Linked DNA regions of Homo sapiens. The protein of the gene in region 3 purifies or fractionates together with the protein of the main gene of each other region. This does not show direct contact. Each region holds a gene or a part of one and is shown on either strand. Other genes may lie near its edges.

Region 1 (3,653 bases), on a different chromosome or scaffold from region 3:
TTTCAGGGTCAGAGGCTTCTTTGAATTTTATAGCTGTTTGTGCTCGGTTGCATTTGCTGTCTTTCAAAACCATCTTTAGTTTTAGTAAGGAAAGTCACTATAAAGGAAAAATTTTTTATTGTTACCATTCCTGGTAGATTTTCTGAAATATTAGATATTTCTTTGCTTTCATCAAGTAAAATAGGCCTATTTGATACCCATTTCAAGATCTTCCTTCTGCTGCCTGTCTTGTGGTCATTTAACTTCTCATTAAGCCCTCCACTGGAGACTGTGCCAGAAGGGAGAGAAGATGAAAAGCAAATGAATCATTTTCTAATTGTTAGTAGCTCTGGAAAATGATTCAGTAGAAGAGATTGAAACTATTCTGGAAATTCTTTGGGATTGTATTTCATTCATCTGCATCGTTTCAGAGATGTTCCTAATGGTCGTCAATTCAGAATTCAGAAGCCGATCATTATCCAGCTATTGGATAACAGGGAATTTTTCATGCTTTTTTTTTGTTTGTTTGTTTCTTGCTGTATTTAAGCATCTCCACAGAAGATATTTAGAAGCAGGTAGAGATAAAATTTAAACTAATCAATACTGTTTTTTCCCTTTGAACTCTTTAATGCACAATTTGATTTCTTTAGACAGTTTACTCATTGTTATTGGAAGTGACTAATAGTAACTTTGCTTCAATTTATTTTGATGTATCTTATACACAAGTATAGGAAGGCTTTTGGGTGGTTTTTAAGAAACATGGGCTGTAGATTCCCATAATTGCTTTCCTGAATTATTAAGCGTGAGCTTTCATTACATCTTTGTACCGGAACTTTTGCTTTTGCTGTGGAACAGATTCAGGGACATCGTCTAATTTTTTTTTTTTTTTTTTTAGATAACTGCTCAAGAAGTTACCTTGTTTTGATTTAGCAGTAAAAAAGAAAAAAAGGGTTAATAGTGGACAGACTTTTCGTTAACGGCTGCAACATTGATGTCTGCTTTTTTCCTTGTCTTTGATCTTCTGTTTCTCATTTAATCATTTGGATATTCACGGATTGGAGTTCTTTATGTCACTACAGACAGGACAGCAACCGTTATTCACACTAGTTGAATGGGTTCCTGCCTTTTTTTGGTGGGGGGGCCTCAGGAGAATTTTTACAAACCCATTATGACTGTTTAGTTAGGCTGAGTTACTGTAAAATTTGTAAATAAAACCCTACTGGATGGATAGGGTTAATAGATGGCTATAGAGAGTTTAAAGTTAAGCTTTTTCAATTTCTTGTCTCTTGGATTCTGTTCTTTCAATTTCTACCCTAGGAGGGGATTTATGGAAAAATCTAGACTAAGAGTCAGAACATGCAAGTTCTTATCTAGTTACTTCCCAGCTGTGGCGCCCTCAGCTAGTCACTTAATCTGCCTTGTTTCTCTGTTTTGCATCTTTAAGATGAGGATAGTAATCCCTGCTCGGCCTACTGGTATCAGGAATGTTGTAGGGGGAAAAAAAGTCTTTCATGCCCCTGTCTATTAAATTGTTTCTTCCTTCTAGAATCCCTTCTCAGGTTGTCCGAATTTTCTTTCAAGGATTCAACTGAATGGGCTCTTCCCAGAAGTCCTCTATTTCCCATTTGAAATCTTGCTTTTCCCCTCTCACGGGCCTCTGCTGGTCCATCTGTTATACAGCACTTTGAATTCTGTTCTGTACTTCAGTCATTGCATGTTGCCTTCCATTATAGATGGAAAGCTCCATGAGGGCAAAGATTGTCTTTTTCCTCTTTCTGTGTGTCCGCATTGCACATAGGCACCCCCTCCACTCCATAGGTGACCCACAATAATTGTTGGCTGAATGAATGATTATTGAGGCTGTCAGAATGAATACTTTGGGTGATGGGAAAATGCCAAAGATGAGCATCTTACCAGAACTTTTGGATGAGTGGCCTTTTAAATTGCTCAGTTACTAATCTGTTGTTATCAGTAACTGAATCAGATCCTGGCAAGACAAATTGGCAAAGCCCATTTCTTGGTCCTGTTTACTTCGGATACTATTTGTGAAGCAAGTCAGAGGAATGAAAGACTGTCATAACAGTCTTGAATTTGACATTTGTTCCATTTCTCACCCCATAGCATGTGGAGGCCTGTCTATATCCAACTGCTGAGTGTAAAGAATAAAAACTGACTGCCCCATAGTCTGGTCCACATTTTAGTTGTGTGCTTTGAAGGATTTGCAAGGTAGAGAAATAGATGCTTCAGGCTCTGATTTCAGCCCATGCTGTGCTATGCAAATGTTCTCTACATGCCTGAGTGACCTTTTGAGAAAGAGCCTTTGTGATCTTCTGTAGCTAGGGCTTGTTCTGGGAATTCTGTGCCAGATTCCTCTAAAAGTGGGAAAAGTGAATCTGTTAAAGGACCACGTAAAAAAGCCAGTGCTTTTCCTGGATGAATACCAATAAGTCCATGTTTCTTACCATGTCTTGCCAGAGCTTTAGAAATTTGCTCTGCAGTTTGCTTTACAGGTTGATTTGGGATTGAAGTGTGTGAGAGGGAACTGACTAAGGCAGTTCAGTAGCTGGGAAACTGTTTGTTTAAATGCTTTTGAATTGTAGATAAAAATAAATTCACATTGGCATCATTAGTATCTGAGCATTTCTCAGTGTCTTAAGGCTGGCTCTCCATGAGTGCTGGCTGATTGACTCTCATCTATATCGGTAAGGTTCTTTTTGCCCCAAATTGTGCTCTTTAACACTTCGGCATTTAAATCACTTTCTATTTGTTTTAATTGTACAAAGAGAAATACATCATTATTTAAAAGCATCATCTTTTTTTTTTATATTGTAAGATAAATACCATTCTGATGTATTTCTCTTGGAAAGGGATGCTGGTATCCTGGGAGGTTTATGATTTTTGATGTTTTTACTCAGGTGATTGGCTTGTATAGCTGAAATGCTGATGAAAAGGAGTTTTCCCTTCTCCCTTTTTCTTTTCTTTTCTTTTTTTTTTTTTTTTTGAGATGGAGTCTCGCACTGTTGCAGGGGCTGGTGTGCAGTGGCACAGTCTCGGCTCACTGCAACCTCCGCCTCTCGGGTTCAAGTGATGCTCCTGCCTCAGCCTCCTGAATAGCTAGGATTACAGGTGCCCACCACCACGCCCAGCTAATTTTTTGTATTTTTAGTAGAGATGGGGTTTCACTATGTTGGGCAGTCTGGTCTTGAACTCCTGACCTGGTGATCCTCCTGCCTCAGCCTCCCAAAGTGCTGGGATTATAGGCATGAGCCACTGCGCCCAGCCTGTCCCTTTTTCTTAAATGACCTTTTTGGTGAGGACCATTATAGGTTTGTACCAGGATAAGGTTGTAGAGTTAATCATAATATTCTCTTATATAAATTCTAAAAATTGATGTTCTAAGAAGAGAGGTAGAATTTGAATGACTGGGTTACTTCCTAGACTCTTCCTCCTTCTCTTAAGTACAGTATAGTTCTTTCTCTGAAAATCTTCAGTCTCTTAGTTCCAGATGGGTTCTCTATGGTAAGAATACAGGACATGTAGAAGGCCCTAGGGGAATGCTTTCTTCCCCAGATCTTTGCCCTGTAGTAGGTTTCAGCTGAGCAAGGACGAGTAGTTTTTCTGGTGTTTGGCCTCCTCTGTTGGGTGGAAAAAGACTTTCTTCTCTATTTTCCTAG
Region 2 (3,653 bases), on a different chromosome or scaffold from region 3:
AAACTTTAGCAACGTGATTAAAGTGTATGTCCTCTTCTATTTCCTCTGATAAAGGAATTTTGTTTTAAACCTAAATTTCAGAAGAGTTCTGCATATTAATACTGAGTTGAGCAGCAAAGGTTCTAATTTTTTACTAAGCAAAGTTTAACTGAGATGTTTTAAGTCAATATTTCTCAGTTGGGGTGATTTTTGCATACCACAGCCATTTGGAACTGTCTGAAGACATTTATTTTAATTTATTGATTTACATGGGTTTATTTGTCTTCACAAGTGGGGGTTGTTAGTAGTATCTAGAGGTTAGGATGCTAAACATCTTATGATGTACAGGACAGTAAAGAATTATCCCACCCAAACTCCCAATAGTGCCAGAGTTGAGAAATTCTGCTTTACACCAGTGACCATTAATCAAAACAACTTTGAGAAGAAACTTGGATACTTTCCTAAGACTTTTCAGCTACAAAAAAACTTATGTGCTTACTTCTTCTTGGTAAGTGACATTTCAGAAATCAAGGTTTCCTAAATTCTATAAGAATCCACAAAGCATTCTTTTGATATAACTGCTTCTTACCAAAGCAGGCAATGTTCCCATCTAGTCCTATGTATTTTAGATCATATTTGGCAGCTTCATTTTCAATGGGCTCATTCTCTGATTTGTCGTCCATAGCAAATATGTCTTTTTGTCGGAATTCTGCGTTGTCATCAAAGTTTATCTTGGCATCAAAACAGACAACTAAATAAAGAAGAAAACAATCATACTTGAATATCTCTTGAGGATCTATAAATTAAGTTCTTCAGGCTGGTAGGCACAAGCGAAGGGAAAGTTAAGTACTGTCATTTTTTTTCACATGTTACAGGCAGGAGAGGCTGCTTTGGCTTTCTTGACCTTTAAATTTTAGGGTTTGGTCCCTGTTGTCAAGGGACTTACGTTCTAGTAAAGAACATAGTAATTTCTACCTGTTGTTCTCATTTCAATAGAATAACCCCAAAAGTTGCCATCAACCATTAAAAGTTACAGACTGGCACAGCTTCATAGATACAGCTTTGATTCATTATTTTTATTATATATTTTTAGTATTTAACCACTAATTATCACCTTTCTCTTCTATGTAAAGAGAGACTAGACAATATTATTAATTATTTTGTCCCCTATTGTCCTTTTCTTGATATGGTAAAGTGAAATTTTTATTGAATCAGTATCCTGTCTAGTATTTCCAAAAGATTTAGTGGAAAGAATGCCAGACTAGAATCGCTCGATTTTTATTTGATCCTTAACTAACTCTGTAACATTTATTAAAAATAAAAATTGTATACACTTGAGTCTTGAACAACATGGGTTTGAACTGTGAGGGTCCACTTATAGCTGGATTTTTATTCTCAAGATGTAAAGCCCCAGAGGGTCGACTTTTCACATACATGGGTTCTGCAAGGCCAACTGCAGGAATTGTGCAATATGAACGAAGTTTGGTATATCTGAGATTCCTGGAACCGATTCCCTGCATATATTGAGGGACAACTGTGTATTTAAAGCATACAACATCATGTTTTGATATACATATAACACAGTGAAATAATTAAACACAGTGAAATGATTACTACACTGAAGCAAATTAACACATCCATCTTCTCATATAGTTTTTGGTTTTTCTTTTTGGTGTGGGAGAGCACTTAAAATATATACTTTTAGCAATTTCCAGCATACATTACTAACTCTGTAACCTTGATAAAATAACCTAGTTCTTCTCTGGGCCTTGGTTTTTTAATTGGAAAAAATGGCAATAACAATCCTTAAAACAAGGGCCATGCCCTTGATTCGTGCAGGACCATCTTATGGTGCTTCAGATTCAAGTTATAAGACACGAAAAGACCAAGACTGGTCAGTCACAAAGCCAGGATGCCAGGCATTATTAGCACAATTGTCTCTAGTTTCTGGAGCTGGTGGAAATCTCCTGGACCCAGCAAAACTCATTCCATAATAGGAGACAGACTACAGGGCACTTTCCTTGATTTACAGATCTCCTATACATACAATCAGGGAGAGACTGCAGTGGAGAGGGTGGCATTATTGGTATCTGGGTATCTGACCCCTTTTATTATCTCTCTTAGTGTAGAAATTAGTGTTCTGTGATGCCATGTCATCATAATGTTTGTTTGTTTGTTTATTTATTTATTTATTTATTTATTTCGGAGACAGAGTCTCACTCTGCTGCCCAGGCTGGAGTGCAGTGGCGCAATCTCGGCTCACTATAACCTCCACCTCCCAGGTTCAAGCGATTCTCCTGCCTCAGTCTCCCAAGCAGCTGGGACTACAGGCATGTGCCACCATGCCCAGGTAATTTTTTGTATTTTTAGTACAGATGGGGTTTCACCGTGTTAGCCAGGATGGTCTCGATCTCCTGACCTTGTGATCTGCCCACCTCAGCCTCCCAAAGTGCTGGGATTACAGGTGTGAGCCACTGCACCTGGCCAATGTTCTTTTACTTAACTTGGGATATTGATAGCCAGGAATCTTTGAACAATAATTTACAGATACTACCTATTCTCCTCCAGCATTGCTGACAGGCACCTGACTCTTGAAAGGGAAACAGCCACAGAACATTTCTCACTCACTGAAAAGCAGTGGCTATAATCTCCTAATTATACTTGCTTCTTATGAAAATAAAACATGGCTGTATATGGCATCTTGGCGTTAGAGACCCCAGGTAGAGGGTTTTCTCCAAGGGTTTCCCTACCACAATATTCAAGCACTTTGATACAAATCTGTGTAGACCAGCATATTAACATCTAAGAATACTTGTTATAAGTATATATATAGACCGCACATGACTTAAAGTAGCACTGAGCGACAAGAGAGAATCTTATATGGAAGTTAATGTCTGCTTAAATCCTTAGTCTTGCCCCAAAATGCCCAACCACTTTGTCCACACATTGTGAATGGTTGGAGTGAATGAGTAATTACTTTCCAAAATATTGAAAGCTTATTGACAGAATCCTACAATTACCAAACGAATTGGCCAATGTTCTCTGCTTGCTACAGGGGAATTTTCTCAGCAGTTAATGACTGGTATAATAATCAATAAAAAAGCAACTTCGTACATGGCTTTCCACTAGGTTTATAAATGCATTCTAATTAATTTATTAGTAATTTTAGCTCCTCCATTACTCATTGGCAAGACTACTTATAACTGACACCTTCAAAATGAATGGGCTAAGGTTATCAAATTGACTTCCTAAGGGAAGAGTTTCAAATAAAGGAATTCTTGGTTGAGATCAATAAACAAGTAAATCAAAATAGTTTCAAGCTGACCTTTGCTCCTTACAAAGACTACAGTTACAAGCTGCTTCAGAGAGAGAATAATTAATGGGTATGTATTCAAAGTTCAAAAGGCAATCCCAACTAAATGCCTGCAAAGCTAGATTTTCAGAGGATGTTTTTCTGTGGTATGACGTTCTCTCCAGGGAACAATCTTGACAGAACTTTGCAGTTAACCCAGAGCTTCAAGATGGTGACTATGGGATAAAAGGGGTGTATATCTACAACGGTCCTGTGCCGACTGTTAATTTGTAGAGAAAACTAAACAACCTAATTGGATCATTGCATGTATGTCTAAGTGTTTTGGGAAGTTAAAAACACTACCTAAATATGAAGTAATTTA
Region 3 (3,653 bases):
CAGGTAGGTATGGTACATGTCTGCTCAGCTGAGAAAGTCAACAAGACCCCGGAGCAAGCAGAAACTAAGGCAGGTGGCGTTAGCTCAACAAGGACAAGAGCTTTCTAGTAACGCGTTATCTGAGAATGGAAAGGAAGCCTGGTGGACAGTGAGTTTCCTTTCACTAAGTGTCTGGGTTGAAGCTGGGTGCTCTCTTGCTCTGGGTGCTGTAGCGTTAATGGATCAAGCTGAGGATGACCCTAAATAACCTCTAAAGACCCCTTTTCCTCCAGATTCTTATCTGGGTCCTCACATATCTAAGCAATATTCACTGGTCGTCACACACAAGGAAACTAAAACTCACCAAACAGAAAATACTTGCAGGAAAACACGAAGGGAAATCAATGGGCAAAGAGAAACTGGCTGCCTCAACGACTCCTCCCCTTGCCGGTACTCACAGAGCTCACTGCACTGGCAGAAAATGTTTGCGTCTCCCTCACAGAACAAGCTTAGCACAGGGCAAAGCGGCATTAAGTAGGATGGGCTGTGCCAGGAGTGGAGGGGCATCCTGGCACACCATACCAGAATCTGGGAGTTGGGCCTCCAGTAGGCAGGGGCGATCTGGTCTGTCAGCCAGGAAGTCACAGCCTTGGTGGGTCCAAGGCTAAGCTCGGACACCGACTGAGCCATGAAGTTCATCCCGTCCAACAGGCGCTGGGCAGCATTGTTGTTGTCCTTCAGAAACCCATCAGTCTGAAATGAAAACGCAGGCTTCCATCATGCTCTGAGAAGGGAGTGAAAGGAAGGAGGAAGAGGGATGTTTGGTGAGTTGCACACTCACCGTGGCCAACTCAGAACCACTAACTCCCTGGCAGGGAAGAACGGAGACACACCAGGAATCCCTCTGGCTTTATTCTCTTCAAAGTGACCATAAGACTTGATGTGTAGCTGTTCAATTCAGGACTTACTAAGCCCATATAATACAGGAGATGACACCTCCTCCAGGGGGCCCCGCACCGCAGGCTGAGTTAAGAACCTTTCCTCTCAGTTCTTCTAATACTTGGACATCTCTAGGAATCCTATTTCTGTGTGTCTAAGTACAATATCCATTTAGGTATCTGACTTCCCTATTAAACTCTGAACTCCCTGACAATAACTCTTTGTCATTTTTGTATTTTGTAAAGTAACTAGCTCAGTGCTGGGCACAAGGTACACAACAATGTATGCTGAATAATGAATGAAGGAAGGAAGGAAGGAAGGAGCAAACAAACAGCAGGGAAGGCATCTGTATCCTCCTAATTTCGAGGACTGTGAAGAATGTGACCTGAGAGTAAATTACTGCAGTCCTGTTTTCCTGGAACATAAACTATCTTACCACCTTTACTTTCTCGCTATAAGGCCACGTTAAATCCTTGGGACATAATGGAATAAACCATTATGCCAAGGAGGTGGGCTCCCATAATGAGACTACTATATAATAACAGATTTCAGTGGGCCAGAAAATTAGAAAAAGGAGGAGAAAAATAAGGAAATCGGCCGGGTGCGATGGCTCACGCCTGTAATCCCAGCATTTTGGGAGGCCGAGGTAGGTGGATCACAAGGTCAAGAGATCGAGACCATCCTGGCCAACATGGTGAAACCCTGTCTCTACTAAAAATACAAAAATTAGCTGGGTGTGGTAGCACGCGCCTGTAATCCCAGCTACTCGGGAGGCTGAGGCAGGAGAATTGCTTGAACCCAGGAGGTGGAGGTTGCAGTTAGCCGAGATCACACCACTGCACTCCAGCCTGGGTGACAGAGCAAGACTCCATCTCAAAAAAAAAAAAAAAAAGTTTAAAAAATAAGGAAATCTTCAGTTTTATGGTACCTATAGGATCCAGGAAAGCTCAGGAGAGGACCTGCAGGTAGAACTCCTAGGCTGAACGGTGGCTTTAGGAATCACCCAGCGAGGACAATGACACAGAGTAAAATAAGTCCCTCAGGGATAATCACTTGCCTTTTTTCCATGAAAGGAAAAGGTTTTGGATTTGTTGTGATTTATGGACAATGCTAAGTGTGAACAGTGATTTAATGCAGAATGAAAGCATGATATCACTGCCTCACAAACAGATTTGTATTTCTGACATCTGGAATTCAAAAGTTAAAAAATAATCATTAAACTGGGCGCGGTGGCTCACGCCCATAATCCCAGCCCTTTGGGAGGCCGAGGTGGGCAGGTCACCTGAGGTCGGGAGTTTGAAACCAGCCTGACCAACATGGAGAAACCCTGTCTTTACTGAAAATACAAAATTAGCCGGGCGTGGCGGTCGTGCCTGTAATCCCAGCTACTCGGGAAGCTGAGGCAGGAGAATCACTTGAACCCGGGAGGTGGAGATTGCAGTGAGCCAAGAGAGCCAAGATCTCACCATTGCACTTCAGCCTGGGGAACAAGAGCGAAACTCCGTCTCAAAAAAAAAAAGATTAAGCGTCTATAGGAATCCCACTTCTTAGAATATACTTCAAGAAAATTTCCTATAACAAAAAAATGGCTTTCTTACACGAAGATGGTGACTAGCATTTTAATGATCTTTTTAAAAAGGTGGAAATAAAACTAAATAAAATAGCATTGTGAGGAAAAAAAGCAGGAAAAAGGCATGTAAATATTTGCATCTAGAAAAACATACACATATAGAAAATGAATGAGTAGAACATGCAAAAACGTTTTATTTGCCAAAGGAGTAAAACTATAGATTTTTAGTTTATTTCATTTAAAGTTGTACTTCTAATATATATGCAAGAAAAAATAAAAACAATTTTGGTCTAGAGAACAAAAAAGCTCTCCAGATCATGCCTTTCTAAACCGCCAACATTCTGAAATTCATGGTTAACCTTAATTTTAAGCAGGTTCCAGTTTTCTATACACATGAAAAACTGAACGACACAAGATAAAGAAAAACAGAGAAATCCAACAGTTCTTACTCCAGGCCACACATGCACAATCTCTGTCCGCACCACCGTATCCACAGGATCTTGGTTTCCAAACCAGTACTGCCGACTACGATAGACCACGCCACAGTTAGGACATTCGATCACATACCTACAAGGAAAGCAAATCAATACTGTTACCCAGCCAGGTGCCTGGGGAGACAAACGCACCAGAAAACCTTGAGCCATGTTGTTTAAACTCACCCAGACCAGGCATATTTTGCGAGACCCATCCAGGGGGAGTCAGTGGAAGCAGATGTTTTGGGCACTACACTGACTTCCTCGCCTCTCTCATAGCAGGCCTGAAACAGGAAACACTCTGCTAGCTTATTGTTTGTTTTTTGTTTGTTTTTTTAATAGACACGGGGTTTTACCAGCCCAGGCTGGTTGTGAACTCCTGGGCTCAAGCAATCTGCCCGATCTCAGGAGTTCGAGATCAGCCTGGCCAACATGGTGAAACCCTGTCTCTACTAAAAATACAAAAATTAGCTGGGCATGGTGGCACACATCTGTAATCCCAGCTACTCAGGAGGCTCAGGCAGGAGAATTGCTGCAGCCCAGGAGGTGGAGGTTGCAGTAAGCCAAGATTGTGCCACTGCACTCCAGCCTGGCTGACAGAGCAAGACTCTGTCTCAAAAAAAAAAAAAAAAAAAAAAAAAAAAAAGAATGAATGTTCGATATAAATTACCCTTACATACAAGCTCAACAGA

Evidence for each region.
Region 1: the proteins of ZFYVE1 (region 3) and KCTD6 purify together in Homo sapiens (affinity purification with mass spectrometry; 2 studies listed by BioGRID and IntAct, with this or other methods). This does not show direct contact.
Region 2: the proteins of ZFYVE1 (region 3) and SUCLG2 purify together in Homo sapiens (affinity purification with mass spectrometry; 2 studies listed by BioGRID). This does not show direct contact.

The regions. Positions count from the first base shown.
Region 1 is NC_000003.12:58,495,020-58,498,672, forward strand, and holds part of KCTD6 (BTB/POZ domain-containing protein KCTD6), read left to right. Parts: intron 1-3,345; exon of another isoform or gene 3,346-3,653. UniProt on the Homo sapiens protein: Probable substrate-specific adapter of a BCR (BTB-CUL3-RBX1) E3 ubiquitin-protein ligase complex mediating the ubiquitination and subsequent proteasomal degradation of target proteins.
Region 2 is NC_000003.12:67,497,566-67,501,218, forward strand, and holds part of SUCLG2 (succinate--CoA ligase [GDP-forming] subunit beta, mitochondrial isoform 2 precursor), read right to left. Parts: intron 731-3,653; coding exon 569-730; intron 1-568. UniProt on the Homo sapiens protein: GTP-specific succinyl-CoA synthetase functions in the citric acid cycle (TCA), coupling the hydrolysis of succinyl-CoA to the synthesis of GTP and thus represents the only step of substrate-level phosphorylation in the TCA.
Region 3 is NC_000014.9:72,974,990-72,978,642, forward strand, and holds part of ZFYVE1 (zinc finger FYVE domain-containing protein 1), read right to left. Parts: intron 3,246-3,653; coding exon 3,148-3,245; intron 3,056-3,147; coding exon 2,938-3,055; intron 733-2,937; coding exon 562-732; intron 1-561. UniProt on the Homo sapiens protein: Plays a role in the formation of lipid droplets (LDs) which are storage organelles at the center of lipid and energy homeostasis. Regulates the morphology, size and distribution of LDs.